Homo sapiens: one gene and its partners. The protein of the gene in region 5 interacts with the protein of the main gene of each other region in a pairwise test. Each region holds a gene or a part of one and is shown on either strand. Other genes may lie near its edges.

Region 1 (4,004 bases), on a different chromosome or scaffold from region 5:
ACACAACGTTTTTACTTACATTTTTGTAAAAATATATTTAACCAGTCAACAAATTAGTGGGTTGGAGGCGGTGGTGTGGATTTAGCATATACCAATGATCTGACTCTCACCTTTGAAGTAAATGTAATTCACCAGCACCATCAAGACGTCCTTCTTGAGCTCACTGACCAAATCCACAATCTTCCCTCGAGTTTCCTTCTTGACGTGGTCGTTGATAAGCTGGATTGTGCCCACAGTGTCGTAGAAGTTGGTGTGGAAGAGTTTAGCCTCATAGACGGCCATGGTGTCATTCAGGAATTTTGCAAGGAACTTCAGGTTGTGGCTCAGGAACAGAGCACTGCCCACGCGTGTTTCCAGCCCATGGCCGGGGAGGTTGAGAGTGTGCAGGAGGTGCTGGAAGCCCCTATGGACATCGGACTCAGACAGCTCGGTGAGGTTGAAGCCCAGGCCCTCAAGGATCTGGCTGCGGCTGTGTGAGCAGGCCCCCAGGGAAAGCATGGCGTAGGCCGCCGAGATGCTCAGCGGGGAGAAAAAGATGTTCTTCCCCGGGGTCTCCGAAGCGATCAGGTAGTAGAAGCGGAAGGCAAAGTCAGCATTGGCAGGGGCTATCTTGAGGCTGGGGGAGCCCTCACCTGTCTCCAGAATCTGCTGGTGGGAGCTGTTACTGCAACTCTCACCATCATGCTCAACGTGCAGCTGGCCATGAGAAAGGGCCAGTAGTCCAACCAGCAGGAGGAGCAGGTAGTCGATAAGATGCATCCTCTGCACTCTCAGGCCTATGGGAGGGAAGAGAATGCCCAGGAAATTCCCCCAGAAGAACACCTGGCCCTACTGAGAAGGCTGGCAGTGGGCCAGCACCCGGAGATCGTGAGTGACACCCTCAACTCCTGCAGATGGGCTTGTGAAAGGCAATGTAACACCCACCACCTTCCACATGTATGGTGACAGCAACACTATTGGATGGCAATGTTTTAGACTTACAAGGCACACTCCTTGTGTCCATCATGTCATTGTGTTTCCCACCTGTGTGAGCTCTGCACAGCACTAGACTCCATTCTCACCCAACAGAGCAGGAAATGAAGACTCCCAAAGTGACTCACCCAAGTCACCTACCTAGCACATATCCCAGCCAGAACCCACATCCCCAGACTCAGGTGCTGCTTCTCCCACACTTGTCTTTCAGATGAGTTGATTTCATTAGTGCAGTGATTTTGCATGGAGGATGGCTATCCTCAGAGTTTATTTTAGGGTCTGTTCCACAAACATCTGTGGAGTGCTTTATATGGTTTACAAACCACTTTCAGCCATTTAGTTTGACCCTCCCACCCCTGTAGAGGTCAGTAGAACTGGTCTTTGTATTGTTACCCCGTACAGACAAGGACATGGATGTTTAATAAGTGACCTGCCCAAAGTTGTGGGGATAGAATTGGTACCCGTTTCATAATGAACATCTGTCCAAGAAAGGATACTCCAGTTTCTCCCCCAAATCTGCTCCTGCCCCATCAAATGGTCCCACCAGTATCCGGTTGTCAGGCCAAAAAGCTTCTAGGCTTCTATCCACCCAAAATCCATTTAATCCACTTCCATGACCTGCAGGGTTGGGTTTTTTTTGTTTGTTTGGTTGTTTGTTTGTTTGTTTGAGACAGGGTCTCACTCTGTCACCCAAGCTGGAGTGCAGTGGTGTAATCATGGCTCACTGCAGCCTTGACTTCCTGAGCTCAGGTGATCCTCCCACTTCACCCTTCCAAGTAGCTGGAACTACAGGCATGCACCCTTCCAAGTAGCTGGAACTACAGGCATGCACAGCCACACCCAGCTAATTTTTTATAGAGTTGGGGTCTCACCATGCTGCCCAAGCTGGTCTCCAACTCCTAGACTCTCCTGTAGGTTCTTCAGCCTCTCGCCCCCTCTTTTGCTATGATCCTCAACCAGGGCTCAGAAAACTTTTTCTGCAAAGCGCCAGATAGTAATATCTGTGGTTTTGCAGACCACACAGTCTCTGCTGCCACTACCCAACTCTGCTGTGGCAGCTGGAAACAGCCACAGACCGGACATGCATGAAGAGGCGTGGCTGTGTTTCAGTGAAACTTCACTTACGGACACTGAAATGTGAATTTCATATTATTTTCCTGTGTCACAAAATGTTGTTCTTCTATTGATTTTTCATAGCTTTATATATTTATCTTTTATACTTATCACTTATATTTTATATTTATATTTTACATCTTGCATTCTTAGCTCATGGGCGGTGGGCCGGATTTGACCTACAAGCTGTGGTTTGTTGACCCCTGACCTAGACCCTTGCAGAAAGCTTCCTAGTCTTTCTGCTCTCTGTTCTCCACTCAGCAGTTGGAGGGATCATTTAGAAACATACATAGGACCGCATCACTCACAGACACACCTCCCCTCCGGCATGAGCTCCCCAAGATCACCTGGATTGGCAGCCAGAAGACCTTGGCCCTCAGTCAGTGCCGCCCTGTACCAGCTGTGTGTCCCTGGGGGAGGCTTTTCTGGGTCTCCGGGCATAGTCACCCACCAGTGCCCATGGACCCTAAGTCGGGGCCTTTCTAGCCTGAGTATTTCTCACCTCTAGCAAGAGTGACAAAGTGTCCCAGCTTGCCTGGGACTTTCCTGGTTTTAGCACTGAAAATATATCCCAGAAGAATTATCAGTCTTGGGCAAAGTGGAACAGTTGGTCACCCTCCCTCTAGAGTCTCTCGTCTCCATTGTCTCAGGGGGTTACTCACGGCACAGTCTGTCCTGGAGTGGACCCCCTGGGTGGCTGTCTCAGCTCTGTCTTATCAAGCCCAGGAGGACTGGTCAAACCAGGCCTTCTCAGTACCACCCACTCTCTCCCGACCAGGTAATTATTAACAAACAGGCTACGGGTGCAGCATTGCCTCAACAAGGAAAACTCACCAGAAGTTGGTTCACCCCCTCCCAAGAAGACACCCCACTTCCCACCTGGGGAACCCCAAGAGGGTTCACTTCTTCATGTTTGTGCAGTGCATGGAGGTTCGCCTGGCCCTTGCTGCTCCCCGAGGGCCCGGGGAACCACTTGGAAAATCTGGTCTCCAACCAGCCCCTCACTAGCTGTGTGAAGTTGAGCTCATTTACTCCCTCTCTGAGCTTCAGTCGCCCACCTCCCTCCTACAACATGAGGGGCTGGATCAGACAGGGGGCAGCAAGCTCCAGCGCCGCCTTCCTAGATCAGGTAAGGAAGACTCCATGGTGCCACGGTGGGGAATGGTGGGGATGTGTGGAAGTGAGAGAGCCAGCTCTCTACAGGCCAGGCAAGACCCACCTGTGGGCAGGGCCTCACAGCAGGGCCTCCAGTTTGCAATCCTGGACTCTGTGATTTCTGAGGATAGAGTCCACTGAGATCTCATAGGTCAGACCATAAGGAGAGTACATCCCAGGGCAAGGGTGGCATGGGGTGGGACCAGGAACCTCCTTGGGCCAGGTATTCAATTTGCATTTTTCTTCTTTAACCATGGAATTGAACTTGTTCTCTCCCCAGTAATCAGTGAACCCCTGCACCCTTGCACCCTTGCACCCTCCTGGGGCAGCCATTTCTCAAGCTATGTGGGGAAGGACTGCAGGGAGCAATGTGGCCCTGGGTGCCCTGACTGAGATGACCTTGACCATTCAGGCATCCTCTAGCAGACTTTCTGGATGTGTTTCCAAGTCGTTGGGCCTTAAGGTAAGTGAAATATACACCACTGAGCAGCACAGTGGGCTGGGAGCCCTGAGCGATGTAGACATGGGGATGGCAGAGCAGGCACAAGCACAGCCCTGGAGCCAGCTGGCCTGAGGTCCAAAATGGGTCAACACCAGGACAAGAGAGGAAGCTAGCAGGTCAGGCAAAGTGAGAGCTACTGTCTCAGTGGATTCTCGCTTTCCCTCACTCATCTCTCTCTTTCCCTTGCCTATACACTCTAGGTATACTAAGCTTGGCCCATTTTACACATGAGAAAATGTAAGCCCGGAGACATTGTTAGCTC
Region 2 (4,388 bases), on a different chromosome or scaffold from region 5:
AGACTTACTGGAGTGTGACTTGGTTGGTCATAGGGAAAGGGGGATACCAGTATTAACTGAGTGTCTGTTATATGCCAGGCACCATGCTAAGCCTTTTATAGTGTTATGCCATTTAATTGGGAAACTCGTTTGGTCTCTGAGCCTGGATTAAGTGATCTGTGAAGTCCCTTGTACTTCAAGCATTCTGGATGGGATTTCCAGTTGTCATCCTTGTATTCTCTCCCCAATATAGCACCGTGTTCTCAATTCATATGTACATGTTTGTAAAATTCCTTAAAATATTTATGCTCAAACCAACATTTCCATTTTATCTATCTTAAATATATCTTCCTCTTCTTTACGCCTAATTTCTTAAACTCCCAGAGTTTTTTTCTGTAAGATCTAGTCATCTGTAGCACTTCTCACAAATTGAGCTCTCTTATGCCCCAAACAGTAACGAAAGAGGTCTCTTAGTTGGACAATAAGCAGTGAAAGATATTTCTTATGGGACAAGAAATTAACATTATTAGTCAAATGTTGATGCCGGTAGGCTGAGAAATGATTCTCACTTAAAAGCCCCTGGGTTTTAAACCTCTCTTAGAAAAACATTAGTTAGATGAAAAAAAAAATCAAAATATTTTCCTCTGGAAAACAATGTTCCTCTGAAAACAAGCAGATTATTAAAATATCCCTTGTACTACTTCAGGAAATTGTAATCTTATAACTGTAGTGGCCTTTTAGCTTTTAAATATATGAACTTGAGTTGGACACATGCTGATCTCATTGGTACTTTGCATGATAAGAAATTATGATATTTACAATGTGCAGTCTCAGAAAGAACTGAGAGTTTTGCTAGACATTTGCCCTAAAGTTTGAGTCAATTTATGGTTTAAAGGGGTGTATTTAAGGCTAGAAAAGGGAAATGAAGGGTTTTCTTAGGATTTTTTCCAATTCTATTTAAAATTGTTTGCAAAGTTTTGAAAGCATATGTCATGAGTTTGGCAAAAATTATTTCAAAGCTTGTTTTTTTTTTAACCTCATTCACCTCTGCTAACTCCTGAACTTCAGTGCTTTACTTCTGTCTTCCAAAAAGACGTTGTCTAAAATTAGTCATGAAATTTAACTTAACTGTAAGAACTTGAAACATAAAGTTTGCTCTGAAAAAGATCTGGGAAACCTGATGTATATTTCACATATCAATACATCTGTTGATGTATTGATAAAATCTATACATCTCAGTTGAAAAAAAATCTAAATTTTGCCCAATATATAGCCACAAATTATTTAGAATGTAATGTTCGTGTTAGTAGGTGATATTTTTGTCTTCAGCTTGTCATTGACCCATCTAAGGATCCCTGCGAGGTCTTGTCAAAAACTAGCCTGGGGCATACCCAAGAATTTTAAAGATTAAATAAAACTTACTGGAAAATGTGACCTTGTTTTCCTTAGTCTTAATATTTTGAACTGATAATGTTCCAGAACTGAGCAACTTTCTTCAGGCCTTCATAAAACCAAATTAAATTGTTTTTAGGTGAATTGAACCTGAGCAACAGGGAGTATTTAAGGACAGGCCAGGCAGGGGCACACATGCTTGTAGTCCCAGCTACTGGGGGGGAGGCTAAGCTGGGAGGATCACTTGGGTACAGGAGTTCAAGTCCAGCCTGGGTAACATAGCAAGACCCCAAGTCTTTTAAAAAAAATTAATTAATTAATTTAAATTAAATTCAAATAAAATAAGGACATTATCCCACAGGTGTTACAAATGAAAATTTGTTGTAATGTAAAGGATTATTTACTAGTTCTTGGAATTCTACAGTTAGCCACACTCCATACAGGGAGAGCAGAATGTTGTGAGCAAGAAGTTTTAATTTCACAGAATTCCTAAAACCTGTCCATTCAGAGCTGTTTGGTTTAGGTTACTGTTAATGTACCCTAGAGGTTCCCAAAGGCACATTTCGTGTTAACATTGATAGCATTGATAGGGTGAGACTTAAAAAAAACCAACCTTTTTTTTTTTTTTTTTTTTTCTTAAGATGGAGTTTTGCTCTTGTTGCCCAGGCTGGAGTGCAGTGGCGCAATCTCGGCTCACGGCAACCTCTGCCTCCCGGGTTCAAGCAGTTCTCCTGCCTCAGCCTCCCAAGTAGCTGGGATTACAGGCATGCACCACCACGCCCAGCTAATTTTGTATTTTTAGTAGAGACGGAGTTTCTCCATGTTGGTCCGACTGGTCTTGAGCTCCCGACCTCAGGTGATCCTCCTGTCTCGGCCTCCCAAAGTGCTGGGATTACAGGCGTGAGCCACCGCACCTGGCTGACCCAACTTCTTATCTATTCCTCCCATACCCGTCCCCTCAAATGTAAACAGCACTCACAAAAGTGGATATTTGGTTCATAGAGATTACTGTTGTGTAAATCTGTTGCCAGTGGAATAAAATCTTTCCTTTTTACTAAAATTTTATTCGTACAGTAAACTGCATCCATTTAAAGTGTACAAATTGACAGATACATACACCTGTGACTCCGGGATCAAAATATGGAACATTTCCTCTTTGCAGTCTGTTCCTCCCTCAGCTCTCAGACCCACACAACCCTGTTCTGCTTTCTGTCACTATAAATTAGTTTGCATTTTCTGGAATTTTATATAATGGACTTACTGTATACTCTTGTTTTCTGACTTCTTTCACTCAGCATAGTAACTCTGAGATTGATTCTCATTGTTGCATAGTAGGAGTGCTTGGTTACTTTTCATTGTTGCCAAGTATTCCGTTGTATGAATATATCACATTGGATGTATCCATTCACTCTTTGGGAGACATTCAGGTTGTTCCCAGTTTTTAGTCATTGTGAATAAAGATGCTGTGAATATTCATATACCAGTCTCTGTATGGATGTACATTTTTATTTCTCTTGAGTACCTGGGAGTAGGATGGCTGAGTCTTATTGTGTATGTTTACATTTTTAAAGAAACTGTCAATTTTCCAAAATGACTGTACCTCGAGTTATTTCATAACTTCGCCAACATTTAGTATTGTCATTCTTTTTGCCTTTCTAGTAGGATCTTGTGTTTTTAGTTTGTACTTCTTTGATGACTAACATGTTGAGTATCTCTTCATGTGCTTACTGACATTTGTATATCTCAGGCTTGCAAACCAGGCTGGTGTTTTGGCCTGACAGCCTGTTTTTGTATGGCCTGCACCCTGAGAATAGCTTTTACATTTTAAATGGTTGAAAACATCTAAAAGAATAATACTCCATGTTGCATGATAATTATATGAAATTCTGATTTCACTGTTCGTAAATAAGTTTTATTGGAACATGCATTCATCTATGTATCCCGTATGGCTATTTTTGTACCACAGTGGCAGAGCTGAATAGTCTTGACAGACATTTTGGCCTAAAATATTTACTTTCTGGCCCTTTAGAGAAAACATTTGCAGACTTCTGGTAGATCTTCTTTGGTGATGTGTCCCTTCAAATCTATTGCCTGACTTTTGGGTGGAGGACGTACCAGCCCAGTATGTTTCTAACCCAAGCCCAGTTTGACAGGAACTGCATCAAGTTCTTCAGTTGTACCAACCACATTTCAAGTGCTCAGTAGCCACATGAGGCTAATAGCTACCATATTGCATAGTGCAGATATAAAATATTTCCACTCTCATGGAAATTTCTATTGGACAGTGCTACTCTAGAATAAACTTGCCGCTGAACCAAAGGGATTAGAAGCAAAGTGGAACATAGGTTATAGGATTGCTTTCCTGGATGTCGATAAAAATAAGCTAGATCCTCGTCCTCTCAGATGTGTGTGAATGCAAATGGATATATTTTGTTATCCATGTATGTCCTGTTCTCTTGGCCAAGTGATGAGAGGAAGCAGTTAACTCATAAAAGAAATTCAGAATTTTACTGATAGGAAATAGTGTTTTAAGGGGAAAAAAACAAGTGTTAACTTATCATCTGCCAAAGCATTTTGCAAAGAACAAACCTTCTAAAATTCCCATATAGTTGTAACTGTTTTACAGATGAGATGGAGAATATGAAGGGAGATAGTAAACCATGAAATCACTTTTTCCTGGTGCTAAGTCCTGATTCACTAGCAATCGTAGTTCTCTTCAGCTTCTAATTTTAAAGTATTATTTACCATAAAGTTTTTCATAATAGCATGAGTTTTGAAAATAATTCAGAAATATTCTAAGTTGAAATGGCTAAGATAGCCTATTTTAAGATTGAATTTAAAGGGTTTTTTTTTTCCCACTGTAAACTGTTTTGTGTGACTGCGATAAGGGGCAGGCATAACTGACTCTAAAGAGTGAAGTGGAAGTCAGTAAATCTGTGATTACATAGTCATTCTCTTTGGCAAAAATATTATGTAATTATGAATTATTTTGTTCTTAACATAGAGATGTTTGTAAG
Region 3 (4,388 bases), on a different chromosome or scaffold from region 5:
GGGAGCTCAGGTTTTTCTCCACTCTGTGCATGTCCAAGAATGACCATGAAAATACCACGAGTGTTGATTTGGGGGACACGAAGTTTAGTGAATAAGCAAATTTGCAAATATGGAATCTGAAAATAATGAGGATAGGCTGGATACACACAGGCAATGCAATGGCTTTTAGAACGACAAAATGATGTTCAACCTCACTATTTACTGGTGAAATGTAATGTAAAATTACTATTTGACACCTAAGATGCTGGCAACATTTTAAGTTCTGATAATACCATGTGCTAGAAAACATGAGGAAATAATAACTCATGTGTTGCAGGTGAGGCTATGAATGACTTGGCCATCATAGAGGGCAATCTGGCCATTCCTGGGAGAGGTGGGAGATGCACACCCGTAATCCTGCTTCCTGATCTCTGTCCCTGGAGGACTTTCACCCATAGGGACAAAGAGACTTGGGATGCACAGTCACTATAAGAGGGTCCCTATCAGTGAAAAGAACTAACCTTCACTCGGCAGTCAATGCATGATTCAAGTGGAAACTGACTCACAGAATGGAATACTGTATATTAGTTAAAATGAATTTAACTATGTATTAACATGGACTTTCAGACTGGAAAGGTCTCCACATCAACCTCCCAAAAAAAGTCTAGTTATGCATCATTTACAAGAGACCTACATAAAACAGAACACAAAAAGGTGAAAGACTAAAGAGTGGGACAGGAATCATAAAAACGGTTCCTGGCAAATGCAAATTTAAAAAGCATGTGGAACTCTATTATTGTTAGGCAAAACTGAATTCAAGGCAAAAAGCACTAAAAGGGACTGTAAAAAGAAACCAAAAAACCCCACAAAAACCTATATAACCTTAAAATACACACAAAATATTAAAAATAGAGAACTAATAGAAACTAGCAAATCCAGATTGAGTGTGGGTGACTTTCACAAATCTTCAGGTATCTGGTACTCATGTGGATAAAAAATATATAGATATTTTTAATAACATACTTAATACTCAATCTCACAGATGAGTCAAGAAATGTGCAGATACATCAAAGCACACGTATTTTTGAAACAACAGGCAAGATTCACAAAAATGGACCGTATCTAACTGGTTACAAAGAAAAATCTCAATAAATTATCAAGAATAAAACATAAACAGCCCATATTCACTAATAATAATGCAACAAAAATCAGAAAACAGTATCAAACAACAGAAGCCTAAATGCGTGGTGGAAGCAGGGAGATGGTATTCAGAGGAAACTTTACAGCTTTAAATACATTTATTTGAAAATTTAAAAATGACTAGTAAAAATTGCTTTTTCAAGAGGCTGGAATGATATAAAAAATCACTTGAATCACTGCATACACCGGAATAGCTACACTTAAAAAGGCTGACCACACCAATGTTGGGAAATATGTGGAGTCATCACAAGTCTCCCACACTGTGGGTGGAGGTAAAAAGAGTTCAGGAGAAGGCCCAGGAATGTCTTATAAAATTAAGCACACACATGCCCTATAATGCAGCAATTCTACGCCTAGTTAACACTAACAGAAATGAAAATGCATGTCCACAAAAAGTATAGAGTATTCCTATACAAGGAACTTTATTCATAGTAGTCAAGCCTGGAATCTGCTTAGGTGTCCTTCAACAGGAGAATGGATAAATCAACGCGTATGTTCATACCATAAAATGCTATTCAGCAATAAACAGCTGTAACCTACTGATACATGTACAACACAGATGAATCTCAAAAGCACTATGCTAAAAGGACGCCAGGCTTAAGTGGCTACATCCTGAAGGATTTCATTTCTGTGATGTTTAATAACAGGAAAAACTAGTCCATTACTTAAAAAATCAGAATAGTGGGTGCCTGGGGTAGAAGGGAGTTGACTAGGAAGTTGCACGACAGAGCCTGCAAGCGTGACAGAGATTCTGTATCTGGATAGGGTGTTTCGATTGCAGAGATTTATGCATTTGTCAGACCTTATAGTGCTATACTTAAGATGTGTGCATTTCACTGGTATGCAAATTTTAACTGAAGAAGGAGGAGCAAGAATCATAAACAGATACTGAACTCTCATTAATGATATATATGCTGAAGTATTTCAGGGTAAATGTACAAGTATCTGCAACTCAGTGAAATGAATGAAAAATCAGATGGATTGATGGACAGATGGAGGCTGGATGGAACGATAAGTGATAAAGTTAGCACAGTAAAATGTAAATGCTAGCATCTAGCTGGTGAGTATACAGGAGCCCACTATAAAATTCTTTCAACCGTATGTTTGAAATTTTTCATTATAAAATGTTAAGAAAAAGAAAACACCTCAAAACACAAAGGAAAGTAGTCCTTGATAAGAAAATTCAATTTAGATATTAATTCTCACCAAACTGACCTAAAAATTCATTGTAATTCCAATCAAACTACCATCAGAATCTTTCAAGGAAATCATGACATTCTTTAACAAGACATAACATGAAAAACAAATTATTAATTTGTAAAAGTTTTAATTTCTATATGATCAAGAAATAAGACATAAAGAATTATCAAAATTCATTAAGAAACAATGTAAAGGAAAAATGAGCGAAGAATATGAAGTGGCAATTGACAAAGAGGAGACATGAGTGCCAAGCAATGTGTGTCCACATGCTCAGCCTCACTAGTAACCAGGGAAATGGAGAACAAAGCAGGTCATTTATTCATTTTTCATCCTTCAGAGTGGCAGAAGTTAACAAGTTTGGAAGTCATCTTATGGAAGATAAGGAGAAATGGGTCCTTTGACGTTGTCGGGAAAGTAACCTACGAATGACCATTTGGCAGTATCAGTTTTAAAAAGGGGATGCCTGTGCCCCTTTAGTTTTTCCTCTTCAGAATCTCTCCTAGAGAAACCCAGCCACAGGTCTCAGGGCCAGGGAAGGGAGACGCGGTGGCACGAGTGGCTGGGATGAGGCTTCCCTGATGGGAATGCCTGTCACAATGGAACAGTCACATGCTCTGCACATGAGTCCAGAAACAGGGAAAGAGAGCATCTGGAAACCTCAAATACACTGAGATGGAAAGATTTCTGTGAATACTGTTAACTAAACATGTCAAGTATAGCATCATTTATGTAAAAAAGTATATAAAACTGATAAGAGGTATTTCTTTTTAAAAATATTTTTGTGTTTATTGTCAAATAGCACTCCAGAAATTTCTCATCAATAGTGTATAGGTAAGCATATTTCTTCATTGCCTCAATAATACTGAGTAATTTATGTGCTTTTAGACCTTTTTTCAAGTTGATTGTTTTGTATTTCCTTAGGTAGATGTATGTATGTACTGAGTGCCTACAAACTCCCTGGATGATTTACCTTTATGACAAGGGAGGCAGGAGGCCTGGAAGGATGGGAGGTCAGGCGGGACTTTCCGAAACTGCCCCAGTCATTTACATCAATGTGTGGATTAAATCCATAACTTAAAGTGAGAAGAAAGTCAATGTAAAAATATTGTGAAATAATTTATATAAATATATATATTTACAATTTGTATATAAATATATGAATGTTTAATATTTGTATAATTATAGCTCTGTAATTATATGTTATGTATTTACAATATATTATATAGTTACATAATATATTTATGTAACTATATATAAATGAACTATAAAAGTTTTATTTATAAAATACATAAATATAGGCCGGGTGCAGTGGCTCATGCCTGTAATCTCAGCACTTTGGGAGGCCAAGGTGGACGGATCACTTGAGGTCAGGAGTTCGAGACCAGTCTGGCCAACATGGTGAAACCCCGTCTCTACTAAAAATACAAACATTAGCCGGGCATGGTGGTGCGCATCTGTAATTTCAGCTACTCGAGGCTCAGACAGGAGAATTGCCTGAACTTGGCAGGCAGAGGTTGCAGTGAGCGGAGACTGCACCACTGCACTCCAGCCTGGGTGACAGGGCGAGACTCTGTCTCAAAAAATAAAATAACTAAAATAAAAGACATAAATATAAAATAAGAGAGAACAATAGTTCAACTTTTGAAATGACTTATATGCCTTTTTCCAAAGCCCCATAATTGTGCTCATGATGCAATTTCTTCTTTCCTTACTCTGTGTCTGAAGGACTATTAAGGAAAAATGCTCCATCACTATTGCTCAGCACAGAATCTTCCCAAATATCTTCCCTCTAGGTCAGGTGTGGTGGCACACACCTACAATCCCAGTGATTTGGGAGGGCGAGACAGGAGGATTGCTCGAGGCAAGAGTTTGTCACCAGTCTGGACAGCATAGTGAGACCCCATCTCTACAAAAAATAAGAAAAAATTATCCGGGTGTGTGGTGGCACGCACCTGCAGTCCCAGCTACTTGGGAGGCTGAAGGGGGAGGATGGCCTGAGCCCAGGAGTA
Region 4 (4,388 bases), on a different chromosome or scaffold from region 5:
AGGACCTAAGAAGCTTGACGGAAAAAAAATACCTCTGAAAATGTAATCTGATGTTTCCTAATTCTCTCTTCAGGTGACAGACTACTCTAGGACTGCTGCAGATTAGCACCATTATTATTATTATTTTTTTGAGACGGAGTCTCACTGTGTCGCCCAGGCTGGAGTGAAGTGGCACAGTCTCTGCTCACTGCAAGCTCTACCTCCCGGGTTCACGCCATTCTCCTGCCTCAGCCTCCCAAGTAGGTGGGACTACAGGCACACACCACCACGCATGGCTAATTTTTCATATTTTTAGTAGAGACGGGGTTTCACTGTGTTATCCAGGATGGTCTCGATCTCCTGACCTCATGATCCAGCCGCCTCGGCCTCCCAAAGTGCAGGGATTACAGGCGTGAGCCACCGTGCCTGGCCTAACCCAAATATTCTTTAAAAATATTTTCTGCATAGTATACTGAATGACATCTAACAAGTTAACTCATTATTAATATCACTCATGGTTGAAGACAGTATAAAGCTACTTGCAAGTTGATGAAAAAGAAAAATATATAGATAAAAAGTTCTAATTATCAGATTATTCTTACCTATTAGTATGGCTATAAAAATAACTGAATTCTTGTTTTTTCTAAGTTAACTGTGTTTTATTTAATGTGAAAAACATTGAAGCAAACTTTCCCCCGTTATTCCTTGAATATCTGTTGTATTATAAAAGCTGACATTTATTGAGTACTCACTATGTGCTAGGTACTATGCTCAGGTCTCTCTGTAGCAACATTTCTTTAAACCTTACAAAAACTCTTATGAGGCCTTTATTTTGCTAAGGCTCAGAGAAACTGACTAATGTATCAAGATTAGGGTAGAAGACAGTGAAGCAAGAACACAATCTCACATAAAGACTTACCCTAACCTACCAAAAATACATTATTTCCTTGCCTATTCTGATAAGAAACTGAAACCATCCGAGTATGATGTATTAAGCATATGTTAAAAATTACCACTTAATGTAATTAAAACATTCATTTTGTATTGAGTTATTTTATTGGATCATTATTTAATGTTTCTTGACATGACAGTGTCAGGTAAGTGTGTATCTACCTATGAAAGAACAGAACTACCTTCTGGGAAATTTACAGTATTTATAGGTTTCTTATAACTACACTTCTGTTTAAATTAAATTAATGAAGACTAAGTAAAAATTTACCACAGGGAGGAGTAAGGTCCCTCATTGTGTAGCTTCTCTATGCACTAATAACCTCCTGGCATGACAGGAGACACCTCATGGACTGTTCATTTAAATCCTTACAAAGTATGACTTTTAGATCATGTAGCTGGTTTCTGTCACTTTTTCACCTTATCTCAATATCTGTGTTAAATGAACCAAATAAATTGCATGTGAATTCTTTATTCCTATTATGGCTTATTTCCACGCACGCTTCAGGTATTTACACACATTGTAAGATCACAAGATTGACGATTTTAGTCTATATGTCTTTAACTGAGCCTTGAAGATGGCTGGAGCAACTAGAGTAACTGTGAATATGGTAATGGTAATTCCATTACCATATTATGGAATGGACACATTCTGAGGCCCTTCTGCCCACTGTACTATAAATTCAGTCTTAACCGTAATGTGCTTCTGAAGTTCAACAGTGTCAGTTATTAAAAATTCCTGTTTAGTACACAATATCTGAAAAATATCTGGAAACAATTTATCTTGGAACGTATTCTTGGATGCATAATGTGTTTTTTTTTTCCAATTTAAAATAAACTTCATGCATCTCTGATGGAGAAATCATCAAACTTTCTTAAGGACTTCATAAGCACAGCTGTGACCGCTGAACATGGGATCACAAATTACCTCTGGTGGTGGTGGCCAAAGAAGCGAACGTCGACTTGATTGTCTTCTTTCTGCATGACTTTGGCTGGCCAAAACCCAAAACCTTTCATTTTAGCCCAAACCAGCTCATGATTAGGTATCTGGAAATTAAATGTTTTACCTTGTTATATTACTTTTAAAGTATTAAATGCAAGTGTACCATTAATATTAAACTAGTCACATATAATCCATTATTTCTAAAATATTTCTTTCATAACTCCTAAACACATACGAGATTTTTTTTCTGGGATTGACTGATTTTATATTTGCATCAGAGTGCCAACATGAACCTTATTCCTCAGAAGAGGTCGGGACTGGAGCAAGGCCATCCACATGTATGACGGTGGCAAACAAGAGCACCCGCTTGGCCAAGTGCAGCTGGGGAGCCAGCAGCTCCAGCACCCCTGGGAATTTGTTAGAAATGGGGAAATTTTAGGCTGGCACAGTACTGTCTTCACAGGGCTGGCTTCTCTCAGGCAGCCAAGGCTGCCGGCCAAGAATGCTCAGAATTCCCTTTGTCAGTGCACGGTTTGAAGCTGTATTATTTTGGGGAAATTATACAGCTACAGACAAAGGCAAAGCCTTAGGTCTCTTGTGAAAGGATGAAAGGAGAAACAAAAATTCACTTTATTAAGGGACCCAGACGCTGGGTGTGGTGGCTCATGCCTGTAATCCCAGCACTTTGGAAGGCCGAGGCGGGAGGACTGCTTGAACTCAGGAGTTTGAGACCAGCCTGAGCAACATGGTAAAACCCCATCTCTACAAAAAATACAAAAATTAGCCAGGTGTGGTGGCGTGTGCCTGTGGTCCCAGCTACTCTGGAGGCTGAGGTGGGAGAATCACTTGAGCCTGGAGGAGGTCAAGGCTACGGTGAGCTGAGATCACACCACTGCACTCAAGCCTGGGCGACAGAGTGAGACCCTGTCTCAAAAAGAAAAAGGACCCAATATTTATTTTTATTCAGTATCTCATTTTAAAATCAGAAATGGATAACAAGCCCTGTTACTTTTTTTCAGTTGTTTATACTCATTAAACCCATATATACTATGATATTTTAAAAATTTAGGAAGAAAATTATAATCTTTAACCAAACTGGAAATAAACTTCCTTAGAGCTGTATGTTACACACTTGAGGTAAAAATTTCACATACACAAGGATAACAGAACCAGTTGTCAGGACGAGCATTTGACAAGTAAAAGCAATTCTTGCAAAGCTGCAGTTCATCCAGCTGAAAAAGAAAAGAAACTACTTTAGCCTACATAAAATATACATACACATTAAACTATATAAAATGTATCCATGTAAATTAACATTCACGTATATAAATAGTGTTGAATTTTGTTTCTTAATCTTTTAAGCCTAAATTTTAAAGTTTTCAATAAATGGTACTGGAAGACCCTGTCACTGTCCTCTTAGAACCATGTCGCTGGTCTCAGGCCACAGTTGGAACAGAAGCTGAGGCTGGTCTGACTGGGCCCTGCCCGGACCTCACTGGTTAGCACTTCAGACTGAATATTCCTCAGGAAGGTAACAATATCTGCTGCCAATCACAGCAGTCCTTACCTTTGCCTCATGTATGTCAAACATGAAAATAAAAGACCTTTTTTTGTTTTGTTTTGAGACAGAATCTCATTTTGTCACCAGGCTGGGGTGCAGTGGCGCAATCTTGGCTCACTGCAACCTCCACCTTCCACGTTCAAGCGATTCTCCTGCCTCAGCCTCCCGAGTAGCTGGGACTACAGGCGTACACCACCACACCCAGCTAATTTTTGTATTTTTAGTAGAGACAGGGTTTCACCATGTTGGCCAGGATGGTCTCGATCTCTTGATCTCGTGATCCGCCCAACTTGGCCTCCCAAAGTGCTGGGATTACAGGCGTGAGCCCCCACGCCCGGCAATAAAAGACATTTAAAGGAAATGGCACAACTAAAATGTAGATAAGAGTGGAATCCTGAAATAAATTAATTTCAGTTATAGAAAGAGTATAACTATTGGGCAATGAATAGTACCTCATGACATGTGTCTTTATATAGCATCCTCGCAATGTCAGCTTGCTCACTGTCTGCTGTAATTAAAAATAGATATTACCTATAAGCAATAGTCTGCAAATACAAGACTCAAAGTTACTATCCTTTTCTTTCAGTTTGCAAAAGTAGACATCTACCATTTCAAACCAAAATGTCCATTTAAAATAACGATAGCAAAATAAAATTACACAGGCAGCTTTTGTTTTCCATCCAATACAACCACTAATTCTCAGGGTATAGAGAATGACCTTACCTTTGGATGATGTGGTACTAGTGGGGAAATGATCAGAATTAATCATAGTGCTTATTAAAAACCTCTCAGCTAAAACAAATACATATAAAACTGTAAAGAGTAATTGTGTTTTCATCATTTAGTATACTATGATTTTGTTTTTGGCCAGTCCATTCTATAATCTATATCACCAGATATTCCTAACCTTATACTCTAAACTTGTAGATCATTAAGGTATTAATTCTTTGAAAGTAA
Region 5 (4,388 bases):
CAGCCTAAGTGGCCATTGACTAATGAGCAGATAAAGAAAATGTATCTATAAACTATGGAATACTACTCAGCCAGTAAAAGGAAAGAATGAATGTCTTTTGCAGCAACTTGGATGGAGATGAAGGCCATTATTCTAAGTAACACAGGAGTGGAAAACCACAAACTATGTTCTCACTCGTAAGTGGGAGCTAAATGATGGGAATGCACAGGCATACAGAGTGATATAATGGAACTTTAGAGACTCAAGGCGGGAGGATGGCAGTGGTGCTAGGGATAAAACACTATACATTAGTTACAATGTACACTATAAAACACTATACATTAGTTACAACGTACACTATAAAACACTATACATTAGTTACAATGTACACTATAAAACACTATACATTAGTTACAATGTACACTATAAAACACTATACATTAGTTACAATGTACACTATAAAACACTATACATTAGTTACAATGTACACTATAAAACACTATACATTACTTACAATGTACACTACTGGAATAACTGGTTTACTAAGATCTCAGAATTCACCACTACATAATTCATCCCTATAACAAAAAAATACTGGTACCTCAAAAGCTACTGAAATAAAAATTAATTTTCAAATTTTAAAGAAGACTTTTTCCTCATGATATTGATTGATTGATTGAGACAGAGTCTTGCTCTGTTGCTCAGGCTGGAGTGCAGTGGTGCGATCTTGGCTCACTGCAACCTCCACCTCCCGGGTTCAAGCGATTCTCCTGCCTCAGCCTCCTGAGTAGCTGGGATTACAGGTGCCTGCCACCACACCCGGCTAATTTTTGTATTTTTAGTAGAGACGGGGCTTCACCATGTTGGCCAGGCTGGTCTCGAACTCCTGACCTCAAGTGATCCGCCTGCCTCGGCTTCCCAAAGTCCTGGGATTACAAGCATGAGCCACTGTGCCCGGCCAATACATGATTTTTAATTAAAAAGGACAAAGCAGGCTGGGCACAGTGGCTCATGCCTACAATCCCAGCATCTTGGGAGGCCAAGGTAGGAGGATCACTTGAGACCAGGAGTTTGAGATTAACCTGGGCGATACAGTGAGACCCTGTCTCTACCAAAAAAACAAAACAAAGAAAACAACCAAAATTAGCCAGGTGTGGTGGCACACACCTATAGTTCCAGCTACTCAGGAGGCTAAGGCTGGAGGATCGGTTGAACCCAGAAGGTTGAGGGTGCAGTGACCCGTGATCACGCCACTGCACTCCAGTCTGGGTGACACAGCAAGTCTTAAAAAAAAAAAAAAAAAAGTCAAAGCAGAAAAGGTTATCTTCCTACAAGAATCACAGAAAGGAGGAGGAACACAAACTGAACTTATCTTAGCCAGTCAGCAATCCAAGGAGGTCAGGGAAAGACAGTTTTCCTTTGAGACCATCCCTAACGTGACTGTCTTGAAGTCACACTTTGGTGACTCCAAGGTATAAGAAAAATAAGCAACTCTTGGCTGAGGGCCTGTGTCTACCACGCCTAACCTCACTGCGATCTCACAAAGGCAGATGTTACCATCCTCACTGTAGAAATGAGAAGTGAACTGCCGGGCGCGGTGGCTCACGCCTGTAATCCCAGCACTTTGGGAGGCTGAGGTGGGTGGATCACAAGGTCAGGAGTTGGAGACCAGCCTGGTGAAACCCTGTCTCTACTAAAAATACAAAAATTAGCTGGGCGTGGTGGCAGACACCTGTAATCCCAGCTACTTGGGAGGCTGAGGCAGAGAACTGCTTGAACCCGGGAGGCGGAGATTGCAGTGAGCCGAGATCATGCCACTGTACTCTAGCCTGCGTGACAGAGGGAGACGCTGTCTCAAAAAAAAAAAAAAAAAAAAAAAAAAGAAATGAGAAGCAAACTATAAATTGTCTGCCACTCAGGGAGGGCAGTAAAGCCGTCAGGCCCTTGGCAGGAAGTGATGGGTGTGGGAAGGACTCTGCACATCTCTTTCTGTGCTCTCCTCCTGGCCCTGGCCCCTTCCTGGCCGTCTCAGAGTAATGCCGTGCCCATAGCAATTCACATCCATCTCCCCCTCTTCCCTTCAGACCTTGCTCAGGCCCTGAGGACTGGCACTGCTTCAAGCCTAAAATGAGTCAAGTTTTTGGGTGGGATGGGTGTTTTCAGAGCTCTGGGATTCTCCTTCCCCCAGCTTTGAACCCAGAGATGTCTGGTGACGGCCTCCGAGAATCACAGTGCTAGAAGGCAGGGTGAGCACATCACCATGCAGGCCAGCCACGCTCTCCGGCCATGGGCGTGGCTGGGCCCAACTCACCTGGTTGGCCTGCCCAGGCCCATGGGCTGCCTCTAGGGCCTTGTACAACCCCTCCGACATCAGCACCAAGAAGCCCGTCACCCCATCCAGCGGCTGTGCCCCATGGATTTCTGGCTCTGCGATGATTGGTTTGGACTTGGCAGCGCTATGGGGAGAGAGTGGAAGGAAGAGCTTTGCTTGGAACAGCCCGCAGGTGGATGCTGATTCTGCTGAGGGGAGGAATCTATGCCCAGAATGTAAAATAAAACACACAACCTGACAAGAGGAAAAGAAAAGAGAGAAAGAGAAGGTCAGAAAAATAGACCCATCGTCTTACAGCAGCTGCTAAAATAAAGCTTGGAAGGCCATAAAAACTGGCAGGCAGCTGAGGTCAGGATGGCAAAGGTTGAATGCCCGATTCTGGCCTGTTCCATACGTCCTGTTCACAGGGTCCGGTGGTGGCAGGGCAGGGTGTGGGACAGCAAGAGGGAGGGATTATCCCTGGGAGCCCAAGCCTCTTGCTATTATTTGGGCTTTTCCAAAACAGATGGCTGAGACCCCAGATACTCTCCATGTGTACAGGGATCCTTTAGTGACTGGGGTCAGAGTCATTACATGCCAACACATGTGTGTGCACATGGAGGTAAGTACATGAGGAGGTGCTGGCAACACCATCCAGAAGAGCGGAGTCTAAGAACTTCCTGAGGGTCCGTCAGCCAGGGCTGGGCCCTGGGAGCGGTTATTACACAGAATGACGCCATCCTAACTGCAGGTGAGCAGAATGAAGAGATGAGCACCTTTAATGATAGCAGTGAGGGGTGTGTAAACATATCTCCAAACTCATCAAGTTGTATGCATGAAATAGGCACAGCTTTGCATATGCCAATTACACCTTAGGGTTTAAAAAAAAAGAAAAGAAGGAGGAGCAGGACACACCAGCACCTGGGAGGGGCAGGACACACCAGCACCTGGGAGGGGCAGGACACACCAGCACCTGGGAGGGGCAGGACACACCAGCACCTGGGTGTTCCGAAAAGGATGCAGGCTCCTTGGCCCCCAGGACAAACACACACACACACACACACACACACACACACACACACACACACAGAGAGAGACACCCCAGCACCTGGGTGTTCCGAAAAGGATGCAGGCTCCTTGGCCCCCAGGACAAACACACACACACACACACACACACACACACACACACACACACAGAGACACCGTGTGTGTATATGTGCATGTGGCCAGATTTTGGAACAGGATACACAAGAAACTAGCAGCCTCTGGGGAGGCAGCGAGTCCTAGAGTGTGGTGTAGGAAGACTTCCTTTCCCTGTATAGACCCCAGCACTGTCTGAAGTGTTTTAAACTATGGATGTCCTTTCCAATAAAGGAAACAGGACCCCACAAATTAGGGACAAATATTCGACACTCAGTTGCCTAGATCGCGTGAGGGCAAGGAGTTCTAACATGCACTTTCTAGGCCATGAGGCCTCTGTTGATGGGAACTCTGGCTTTGGGAACAGCCTTGGCCATGACATTAAATGCCATGATTGGCATCAGGCAAGTGGACGCGCCTATCTCCCCAACCAACACTTCACATACAGGTTACCTGACGGTTAAGGACACATATTCCAAATTCAGGCTGCCTGTGTTCAAGCCCCATGACCAGGGTGGGCTGCCTGATGTCTCCATGCCTCAGTTTCCTCTTATGAAAATGCCTCTGGGGTGATGGCAGTGACTGCCTCAGGGGGCCTGAGTAGGGAATGCATAAAAGAAGGTACATCCAGAGCTCTGCACGGGCTTGGCCGTGTGATGATGACTGCCCATTCTGCTGCCATGAGCGCTGGGGTGATGTCCAGAGGAGGTGTCCTCAGAGGGAAATACACAATTCATCTCACACCTCTGCTGCAGCCATGGGCAGCACCGACCAACAGGCCTGGTCTGTCCATCCCATGCCAACTCTGGCTTCGCCTGCCTCCCTTGTGGCACTAGTTGCTGCCCTCAGCTTTGGCCCAGCTCAACTCCACCCCTTGTTTCTACAGTACCCAACTCCTGGCCTGCTGGGCCTAACCTGCCCCAAACCAACCTCTCTGGGAGGAAGAAAGAGTTTGCCT
Region 6 (4,388 bases), on a different chromosome or scaffold from region 5:
GGTAACTGAATATTCAAAAGGAGGAAAGCAGTTATAACAACTTTTTATCAAGTTATAACCTTTTTATCAAGAGAAAAGAAACAAAGTGGCTGGAAAATAACTGAACCAAGAGACATTACTGGATCAATCCAAGAAACTACCAGCGAAGCATCAATAAATATACGTCATTCATGGCCACAAAAGAGGGAATGAGGAAGAGTATGAATTAGGGCTTTTCATTAAACATGCAATTGAGTGTCGATCCCCAAAATTATCCTTCTTATGTAATTCCTCTAAATTATTTCATTTCTAAACACTAGTTTTGAAAAGTGAAACTTTCAGCTGGGCGTGGTGGCTCACGTCTGTAATCCCAGCACTTTGAAGGCCGAGGTGGGCGGATCACAAGGTCAGGAGATCGAGACCAATCTGGCCAACACAGTGAAACCCTATCTTTCCTAAAAATACAAATAATTAGCTGGGTGTGGTGGTGCATGGCTGTAATCCCAGCTACTTGGGAGGCTGAGGCAGGAGAATGGCATGAACTTGGGAGGTGGAGCTTGCAGTGATCCAAGACTGCGCCGCTACTCCAGCCTGGGCGACAGAGCAAGACTCCGTCTCAAAAAAAAAAAAAGTGAAACTTTCTAGGAAACATGGAAAGAGGCATTTGACCTCATCATTAAATGCAATTTCATTACAACTACCCAAGTCAAGTTTTACCTTGATCTTCGCTTCATCAGGTCCCTTTGTGGACTCTTGCACCTTGCTCCCCTGTTTCTCTCTCTGCCTGTAGGTCTTCATAACTCCACATAAAAATGCACTTTTGTTCTAGAACAGACAAGTAATTCAATAAAAAGAATCACCAAAAATATCTGAAGGGTCAGATACATAATTAAATTTAAATTTCAGAAAACCAGGATTTTAACAAAAGATTTACTGATTCATTCAACAAGTATTTGCCGAGTGGTTACTATGTGCCAGAGATTGGAGCAGACAGCAGTAAGGCAGTATAGACCTCAGGGAGCTTACCTTCTACCCTGGGAAAACACAGTCTTCCACTTGTTGATATGTGACTGTATCTAGACTGTCTTTGCCAGATGTCGGAAACTATTCCTCCCACCTACATTTTCCTCCAAGATAATAAAACAGGATCAAATAACCCCCAAATGTTAAAAAGCTGAGTAACATGTAAAAACCTATAGTAACAACCATCAAAACTTGGCTTTAATTTTAAGTTTTTAAAATAACTTACTGCACAAGGGGGTGGGAGAAAACTTTTGCTTTATACTTGGGCTTCTGAAACTCTGCCACAAGCAGTTTTTTTCCTTTAAACTAATTTTTTAAAAGAAGAGGTAGTCACAAACAAAAAATACCACTTCTCCATAGGAAAAAAAGTAATAGTAAAATAATTTCAGATTACTAATTGTTCAAAGACATTTCTGAGTAACGACCTTACCTGAACATGTGATAAGTCACTTTCCTTGAACTGCTGTAGTACAGACAGAGCTCCTTCTTCATTAAATTCCCTGAGAGCATCAATTGCTCTTTCATCAAGATCGACATAAGCTACCAATCCTAAAAATTAAATTGAAAGGGGTAACGTTATTGCAACAAAAGGGGTAATCTAAGCTCTACTGACGTTTAATCAAGAATTGTTACATTCAATATGATCACTAACAAACTGTATTTTCATTTAACTATATGCATATACGCAGCTATCCAAATACTACATAGAAAGGTCCAGGACAAATATGAAAATAAAGATAAAATGTCAACAACCAAAAACATGAATTTCAATCTCCATATCCACAAACCTCCCCCGCCAAATCCTAACATCCATTTCCCACTCCCCCAAAGGTATAAGTCTTGAAAGTTAAATCTGATGTACATACTGTATTACAGATTATGCATTAATACAACAAATTTTGGTTTATATTAGAGTGATAAGAATACATTGCGTTTTCCAAGGATAAACCTTCAAATTACAGACGGTTACAGTTGATGCTAACCACCTAAGAGGTGGAGGAAAATCTGAAAACAAATTTTACTAAGTAATTCTTTCCACTCTCCAAAAAGTGTCAAAAGGCTTTCCCTCCTGAACACCAAAGATAAACTGAAATGCATTTGTTTATCTGAGCATCCACTTTGCTGCAGTCAGAATGTGGAAAGGCATAATTTTAAACTTCTACAAATGCAAGTGCAGCTTGATTAATCAATTCTGAAAGTCATACTTTAAGGCATTCTTTGTTCTTCTGAAGTGACAAGCTGAGATTTAAAAGATGCTGTGGCATTCACATTGACTGTCAAGAACGACAATCATTTTCAAATGGCAATAAAGACTTTATGGTCTTACAAGTAAACTTGACAGAAAATATATACACTGCATTTCATATATGTAAGTATATTCAACTGCACACAGAACATCTACTAAGTTTAAAATATAATTTCTTAAGTCTGTTAAGTTTGTGTCATATTTACATATGGAATATATTTCAGAATTGATCCAACGTAAAATGCAAGTATTTCGTAGATTAAAACCCCCAAGTTCATATGAACATGAAAAGTGACTCCATTTTGATAAAGCTAAAAAGAACTTTATTCCATATAGTAAATTTTAAATAAATGTAATGCCACTTCCAAAGTTACTTTTTAAAAAAGTTGCCATGATTTGTTTCAAAAGCTCGAAATGAGCATGTGTAAATAACTGGAGCTGCCTCACTTGAATATTCCATACCACCACCCGAAGCCACAACTCAGGACACCCATCAATCCATTTTGTCAAACCAAGTCTACGCCCAAACCATCAGCCTCTTATCAATAACAAAACACTCTACAAGAGAGCATCTCTAAGCAGATCACTGCCAATTCTCTATGGCAGAATGTCACAGAAAGTTCCTGAGGACTGATTTTCAAATGCGACCATGACCCAGGAGTCATTTTTATAAGTCATTTTAATGTCTAAAATTATGCTAAGCTTCCCAGATTTAAAAATTTTTTAAGGACAAAAAAAAAAAAACAGCTATTTGCTACTACTGTACTTAAGACACATTTGTGAGTGAGACAATTCAATTCTCTCTCAGAATCTGAATAGGCACACACAACACAGAGGAAGAAAGTTTCCATCTATGTCCCCAAAGGAGGAGGACACATTCATTTATGAACAACGCTCCCTAAGGGTAAATATTTCTCTCCCTCTTTAAAACTTCAAACCACTTACAACCAACTATATTAAGATGTTCAAATTTGCTTAAGCACTTAACCATGGCACTTCTGGATTAAAAAAAAAAAAAAGAAGCAGCTGTTACAACCAAACACTTCCAAATTACGGAGAGATGTGGATTTCTATTAGAAACTAGACAAGCCACAAACTCTCAAGGAGTCTGACATTTATTATGGTTTCAGACGATACAGCTATCCTCTTGTTATGCCACCTAATCAGACCTAAGCTGATTTAACAATCACTTTAAGAAGGTAAAAGTAGAAAAGCAAAAGCAAAATGATGACTGATTTTGATTAAGAAAAAAATGTAAAATTTGGTATGCAGAAACATACATTTTTATGGGTGGTAAATCTAAGACAAATCGATGTGCTGTTCTGAAACAACTAAGACTGCATATTCAACACTAAGAAGGCTTCAAAATAATGAAATAAGAGTATCAAAGTCAAACCCAATATGCCTTCAATGAAGGGAAAGTAACAAACATTCAGCTCTACAGATCAGAAACAATAAGTATTATTTAACCTTAAAAAACTATAAAATTCAAAGTGGTTTGCCCTCACTTTCATAACCAGTCAGAAACAAGAAATGCATATTATACCTGTCTGAAATATTTCATCAAGTCTTTCTGCCACCTTCTGTGGGAGGCCTGCCTCTATCAGTGTCTTGTAGTGTTCTGTGTGAGTTACACTGGAAGTATCCATTGGTTCTTCCTCTTCTTTTAACTGTACCGCATTACCATTCACCTGATTAGCCATTTTATTATGCTGCTGGAAAAAATTCAGGAGCTATATTACATTAAGCCAGAAATAACTAGTTTGTAGGACAATGCATGATTTATCTAAACTAATTTGTATACATGCTGCTAATAACCTCTATCAAAATAATAATTTATTCCTCCTGTGATGTATCTGACCTAAATTGGCAATAATAATCCTGTAAAACCATAGAAAATGTACATGGAAGCATTAGATCTTTAAGGAACTTCATGTACACCGGGTAAGATAAAGGCTTTAATTTACTGAAGGTAGAATTGCTGATTAACAAAAGCAGCTGTTCTGTCCTGGTGAAAAGATCAAAATCACTACAAAATCCTTTACTAAAAAGCCCCTCAGCTCTCGGGTCTTACACAGTTTTAAAAAGTTTTGTTTTAAAAACAGAATGAACACCCACAGACCACTTAATCAAGATTTAA
Region 7 (4,388 bases), on a different chromosome or scaffold from region 5:
GAGCCTGCTTGAGTGCCAGGAAGAGCCGCCTCCTCTGGAGCCCAGCTCTTCCCCCATCTCCCTGACACTCGGGAGCGTGGCTGGGGGATTTCTTGGCAGCTGCAGCCTTCCAGCCTCTGTGCTGTGTGGCCTCGGACTACTCACCCAGCCTCTCTGAGATCCGTTCTGCACATGTGAAATCTTGCTCTGGGGAGACTAGTGTGGGCATGGCGGCCAGGAAAAGCAGGGTGATGGGGGTGACACATGGGCAGGATGGCCGGGTCCAGGCTGGCAGGAAGGGGGTGGCATGGCCTTGAGCGAGCAGAGGTCACCCCTTCTACCTGAGTGCCCCAAGGGAGGGGGCTGGCCTTGTTGCTCACCCTCCCCAGCCTTCACCTTCCCTGGTGCGGCCTCAGGGCGTCATGATTTCTAGTCGTCCTGAGCCCTGGGGCCTGGAGCTGTCCTAGGCTGGAAGTGGGCATGGGGACACCGCCTCGCTCCGGCTTCTGGAGAGGCGCGCTCAGCCTGAGGGTGGGGGTCAAATGCTCTGCACAGTTAGGAGCAGGGGTTTGCCCTGGGGCCACCTCTGGTTTGCTGAGGGGCCCTTCTGTGACTGGCTCTCCATGCCTGTTTTGTCATCTGTAAGGTGGGAATGGCTGTGATGGCCAGGTCTGAAGGGACAGCAGTGGTGCACTGAGCCAAGGGTGGGTACCTGGGCAGTGCCTACCATGGCTGATCCCTGACGCAGAGGTGTCACTGTTGACCAGTGGGCAGGGCTTGGAGTTTGTGGAAGTTCTCGGAACACGTGGCAGCCTGGATTTGCCACCCCCCAACCCCCGCCTCTCCCCTGTCCCTCAGCTCACGCCCTGTCTCCTGCCCAAGGTCTCTCCCTGTGTCTGACCTGAACCAGGCGCCATGGGGGGTTCCTGGGAGAAGTGCCTGTGCCTGGCCACGGTGCTCGCTCTATCAGCATTCATGTGAACCGGACACCTGGCACAGGGCTGGGCAGGCTGGGCCTCAGGATGAGCCTATTGATGGGGAGAGGGCAGAGGAGGCAGCGAGCCCCGGGCCAGGCATGGCCTCAGTGGCAGGGGCAGGGCTGGACTCAGGGGCTCAAGGGGCTGAGCAGGAGGCCATGGGCCTGGGTGGTCCCCGGGAGTCCTCCCCTTGGAAGGTGCCCCACAGCTGACACTGCCCGGGCACCAGGTGTGGAGTCTGTTTGAAGGCAGCTGCTGCTTCAGTCTCCCAGACCACTCAGGCTCAGGCAGCAAGCACCTGCCCTGGGAGGAGTTACCTGTCCTCCTCTCGCCCCCGGGGTCTCAGAGGATGCCCCAGAGGAAGCTGTGCCCATGAGTTCGGCCCATCCCCCTACTTCCTCTCAGGTCTCAGGTCTCCCACCGAGACCCTTAGGCTGCAGGTGTGCAGGCCGAGGTGGGTTCTTGGAGAGGGTCCCATGGGAAGGCTGTGTGGACAGTGGCCTTGGGGAGCGGTCACACGCAGGCCGTGGGCCCTGGGCACGGGTCCGGCTCCCACCTACCAGCATGGGTGCGGGCACTCGGGGAGGGTGTGGGTGTCGGCACTCGGGGAGGGGGTGGGTGTGAGGCCCCACACTCCCAGGCATGGGTCAGGGAGAACATTTCTCTCATTCCGGCACATTCTCCAGGAGGCCAGGCTGTGCGCTTCCCTCCATGGGGTGGTGCAGTGACCCAGAGGACCGGCCCCTGCAGTGGCCACCCTGTGGGCCCGAGTGCCCCAGAGCTGGCTGGGGTGGGCTGGCAGCTGTTGTGTTGTGTGGAACATGCTGGAAGGTCTGCCTTGTGCCACCCTGCATGTTTGGGATGCATCGACTCCCCGCCATGCCCTCTGCCTCCCCGGCTCCCAACCCTGACCCTGCCTCACGGGAGAGTTCTGGCGTGGGCTGGTGTCCTGGGCCGGGCCCTGCTGTGTGACCATGGACAGGTCTCATAACTTCTCTGTGTCTGTTTCACCTCTGAAATGGGGTCCGGCAGCACCCACGCTCCAGGAGGTTCCTGAGAGAACCCGGGGGCCGTCACGGCAGCTCCAGGGCTGGTGACTGTTCACGTCCTCTCTGCACTCACCCACCACCCCGGCCGCCTGGGAACTGTGCTCCTGCCTGTGCCCCCTGGAGGCATGTGCTGAGTGGAATATGTCACCCCAAACCCATGCCCGCCCAGTACCTCAGAATGGGGCCTTATTTAGAACTAGGGTCTTTGCAGCTGTAATCAAGTTAAGATGAGGTCGGACCGGAGTAGGGTGGGCCCTGAATCCAATGACTGGGGCCTGATAGAAAGAGGAGGAGTGGCGTGCACGCGGGAAGGAGGCCACGTGCAGAGGCTGGAGTGATGCAGGCCCAGGAGCACCTGGGGCCGCTGTGCCGGAGAGGCAGGAAGGATCCCGCCAGCGCCTCGAGGGAGTGGCCCTGCCCATGCCGTGCTTTCCTCCTCCACTGTCCAGAACTGTGAGCACATCCATTCCTTGCCGTCTGGGCCAGCAGCCCGTGGTCCCAGGACACACATCTGGGGGTCTCCTTGGGTCTGAGGGGTGAGCACAGCTGCCTCGAGACATCAGGAGCCTCTGACTCCATCCTGAGAAGAGTTATCCTTGGAAGAAAATGAGGCCACGTGCTAGCCCCCAGCCTCAGAACCCTCCAGGGCGCTTGGCTGGGTGTGAGGAGGAAGCAGGCCGGGGCCACAGCTGCGTGGCATCCTCTGCCTCCTCCTCGGTCCACGGGGGAGGCAGAGGGTCCACGGAGCACCTCGGTGTCTCCTCGGATGTGGTGTCGGCGGTGAGCCTGGGACCACGCTGTTCTGCTGTCACCGGCCTCCTGTCTCCAGCTCACGGGGTTCTTCCGGGGTAGGCTTTTCTCGAGGGCCACCTGACCCCTCTGTGCACGCCAGGGCAAGGCTGACGGGAGGCCCACTCGACCACTCCTGGGTGGGAGCCTGATGCAAAGCACCTGCCGTGGGGCCTCGGCCTGCGGTCCTGTCCCTGGTGGCACAGATCCAGGGGCCCAGGAGCCCGTGTCCGTGGTGGGGAGACTCCCGTCCCCTCCGCAGGCCACAGTGACAGGAGGGCTTTGGCGTCTGGGCCCCCCTGGGCCTTGCCCTGCCTTTCACAGAGGAACAAGCGCCCGCGGGACCGGCGGCCTTGGCCTCCCCGCCCCCCCGCAGAGGAAGCCGGCAGAGGAAATGAGGGCAGCGGACGGGGCCGGAGCCAGTTCCCAGGCACCTCTGAGAACTGTCACGGGAGGCGGCGTCCTCGCCGGGTCTCCAGCCTCCCTCCGCAGGGACCGGGGCCTGGGGTCAGGGGGCTGCGGCCTTGGGTGGGGCTGGGGCGGGCTGGGGTCCTCCCGGGGGTCACTCTGGGGTTACAGCCACGGTCAGAGCCACGCGGGAGCGACACCCAGAGCCTGGTACGTGGGGGTTTCTGGGAGGATGCGGGCTGTGCTCCCACTGCCAGCCTGGGGGTGGGGGCCGTGGCCAGGAGACTCCTGCTCCTGCAGGGACCCTGCCAGCGGAGGTGGCCGTGCCAGAGCAGGCAGGGCCTCTGCAGTGGGCGATTCTGGGCAGCCGGGGCCACCTGCCCCAGGGGGAGTGAGGGGCAGGATGCTACCCCGAGCCAGGGCTGCTCAAGGCCACCTCTCACGGCGGGGCGTGGCCAGCCTATCCCCATCTCACCCTCGGGGAGGGTGTGGGGTCCCTGCTGCTGAGGGACAGGAATCTGGCTCTACCCACCTGCCAGGGTCCCCAGGAAGACCCCTCCCTGTCCCTGGTATCGGGTAGCCCTGGCCAGCTGGCCTGGGGGAGCCAGGCTGGGGGGCAGGGGAGCTGGTCCGGGACCAGGGCTCTGCCGAGTCACCTCTGTGCCAAGGCCACGGTTTGAGGCTGTGGCTTGAGGCCGTTGTGGGATGGAGCTGGGGATGCCGTCCTCGGTGTGAGGATCCTCCGACGAGGCCCTGGTGCTCGGTGGGGCCCCTCTGGCTTCCCTTCTGCTCTGCTTCTGGGAATTCTTAGTGACTCTGAACAAGGGGCCTTGGGTTCCCTTGGTACTTGGTCCTGCGGATTCTGCAGCCGGTGGGGCTTGCTTAGGGTTTGGGCTCCGCTGTGAGGCCCACGTGGAATTTCCTCGAACCCCCTGCGAAAAAGGCGTGTGGCTTCCTAGTGACCACGGCACACACAAGTGCGCTCTGACCTCCGGGGTGCGGGTCCGGGGCTTCCCCGCATTGGATTTACCCGCGCGGCAGCACGCCCAGCCCCCGAGAGTCCCCGCCACTGCCCCCAGGACTGCTACCTGGCCGGTCACTCGCAGGCCGCCGGCGCCCTCCCAGCTGCCCCATGTTGGGGATCTCGCTCGCTCTCTGTGAATGATGCTCAGTTGTGGGCTGTCCC

The links.
Region 1: the proteins of TAB1 (region 5) and SERPINA4 interact in a two-hybrid assay, tested with the Homo sapiens proteins (one large-scale study listed by BioGRID and IntAct).
Region 2: the proteins of TAB1 (region 5) and XPO7 interact in a two-hybrid assay, tested with the Homo sapiens proteins (one large-scale study listed by BioGRID and IntAct).
Region 3: the proteins of TAB1 (region 5) and ROR2 interact in a two-hybrid assay, tested with the Homo sapiens proteins (one study listed by BioGRID and IntAct).
Region 4: the proteins of TAB1 (region 5) and ZMYND11 interact in a two-hybrid assay, tested with the Homo sapiens proteins (one study listed by BioGRID).
Region 6: the proteins of TAB1 (region 5) and HNRNPR interact in a two-hybrid assay, tested with the Homo sapiens proteins (one large-scale study listed by BioGRID and IntAct).
Region 7: the proteins of TAB1 (region 5) and AATK interact in a two-hybrid assay, tested with the Homo sapiens proteins (one study listed by BioGRID and IntAct).

What each region holds. Positions count from the first base shown.
Region 1 is NC_000014.9:94,560,238-94,564,241, reverse strand, and holds the start of SERPINA4 (kallistatin isoform 2 precursor), read right to left. Parts: upstream 2,801-4,004; 5' UTR 2,748-2,800; exon of another isoform or gene 2,527-2,747; coding exon of another isoform or gene 2,433-2,526; intron 777-2,432; coding exon of another isoform or gene 760-776; coding exon 111-759; intron 1-110. UniProt on the Homo sapiens protein: Inhibits human amidolytic and kininogenase activities of tissue kallikrein.
Region 2 is NC_000008.11:21,925,554-21,929,941, forward strand, and holds part of XPO7 (exportin-7), read left to right. Parts: intron 1-4,388.
Region 3 is NC_000009.12:91,750,699-91,755,086, forward strand, and holds part of ROR2 (tyrosine-protein kinase transmembrane receptor ROR2 isoform 1 precursor), read right to left. Parts: intron 1-4,388. UniProt on the Homo sapiens protein: Tyrosine-protein kinase receptor which may be involved in the early formation of the chondrocytes. It seems to be required for cartilage and growth plate development. Phosphorylates YWHAB, leading to induction of osteogenesis and bone formation.
Region 4 is NC_000010.11:239,607-243,994, reverse strand, and holds part of ZMYND11 (zinc finger MYND domain-containing protein 11), read right to left. Parts: intron 3,940-4,388; coding exon 3,884-3,939; intron 3,103-3,883; coding exon 3,025-3,102; intron 1,975-3,024; coding exon 1,856-1,974; intron 1,402-1,855; exon of another isoform or gene 1-1,401. UniProt on the Homo sapiens protein: Chromatin reader that specifically recognizes and binds histone H3.3 trimethylated at 'Lys-36' (H3.3K36me3) and regulates RNA polymerase II elongation. Does not bind other histone H3 subtypes (H3.1 or H3.2).
Region 5 is NC_000022.11:39,419,874-39,424,261, reverse strand, and holds part of TAB1 (TGF-beta-activated kinase 1 and MAP3K7-binding protein 1), read right to left. Parts: intron 2,436-4,388; coding exon 2,291-2,435; intron 1-2,290. UniProt on the Homo sapiens protein: Key adapter protein that plays an essential role in JNK and NF-kappa-B activation and proinflammatory cytokines production in response to stimulation with TLRs and cytokines.
Region 6 is NC_000001.11:23,337,058-23,341,445, forward strand, and holds part of HNRNPR (heterogeneous nuclear ribonucleoprotein R), read right to left. Parts: intron 3,964-4,388; coding exon of another isoform or gene 3,952-3,963; coding exon 3,795-3,951; intron 1,552-3,794; coding exon 1,433-1,551; intron 805-1,432; coding exon 697-804; intron 1-696. UniProt on the Homo sapiens protein: Component of ribonucleosomes, which are complexes of at least 20 other different heterogeneous nuclear ribonucleoproteins (hnRNP). hnRNP play an important role in processing of precursor mRNA in the nucleus.
Region 7 is NC_000017.11:81,159,260-81,163,647, reverse strand, and holds part of AATK (serine/threonine-protein kinase LMTK1), read left to right. Parts: intron 1-4,388. UniProt on the Homo sapiens protein: May be involved in neuronal differentiation.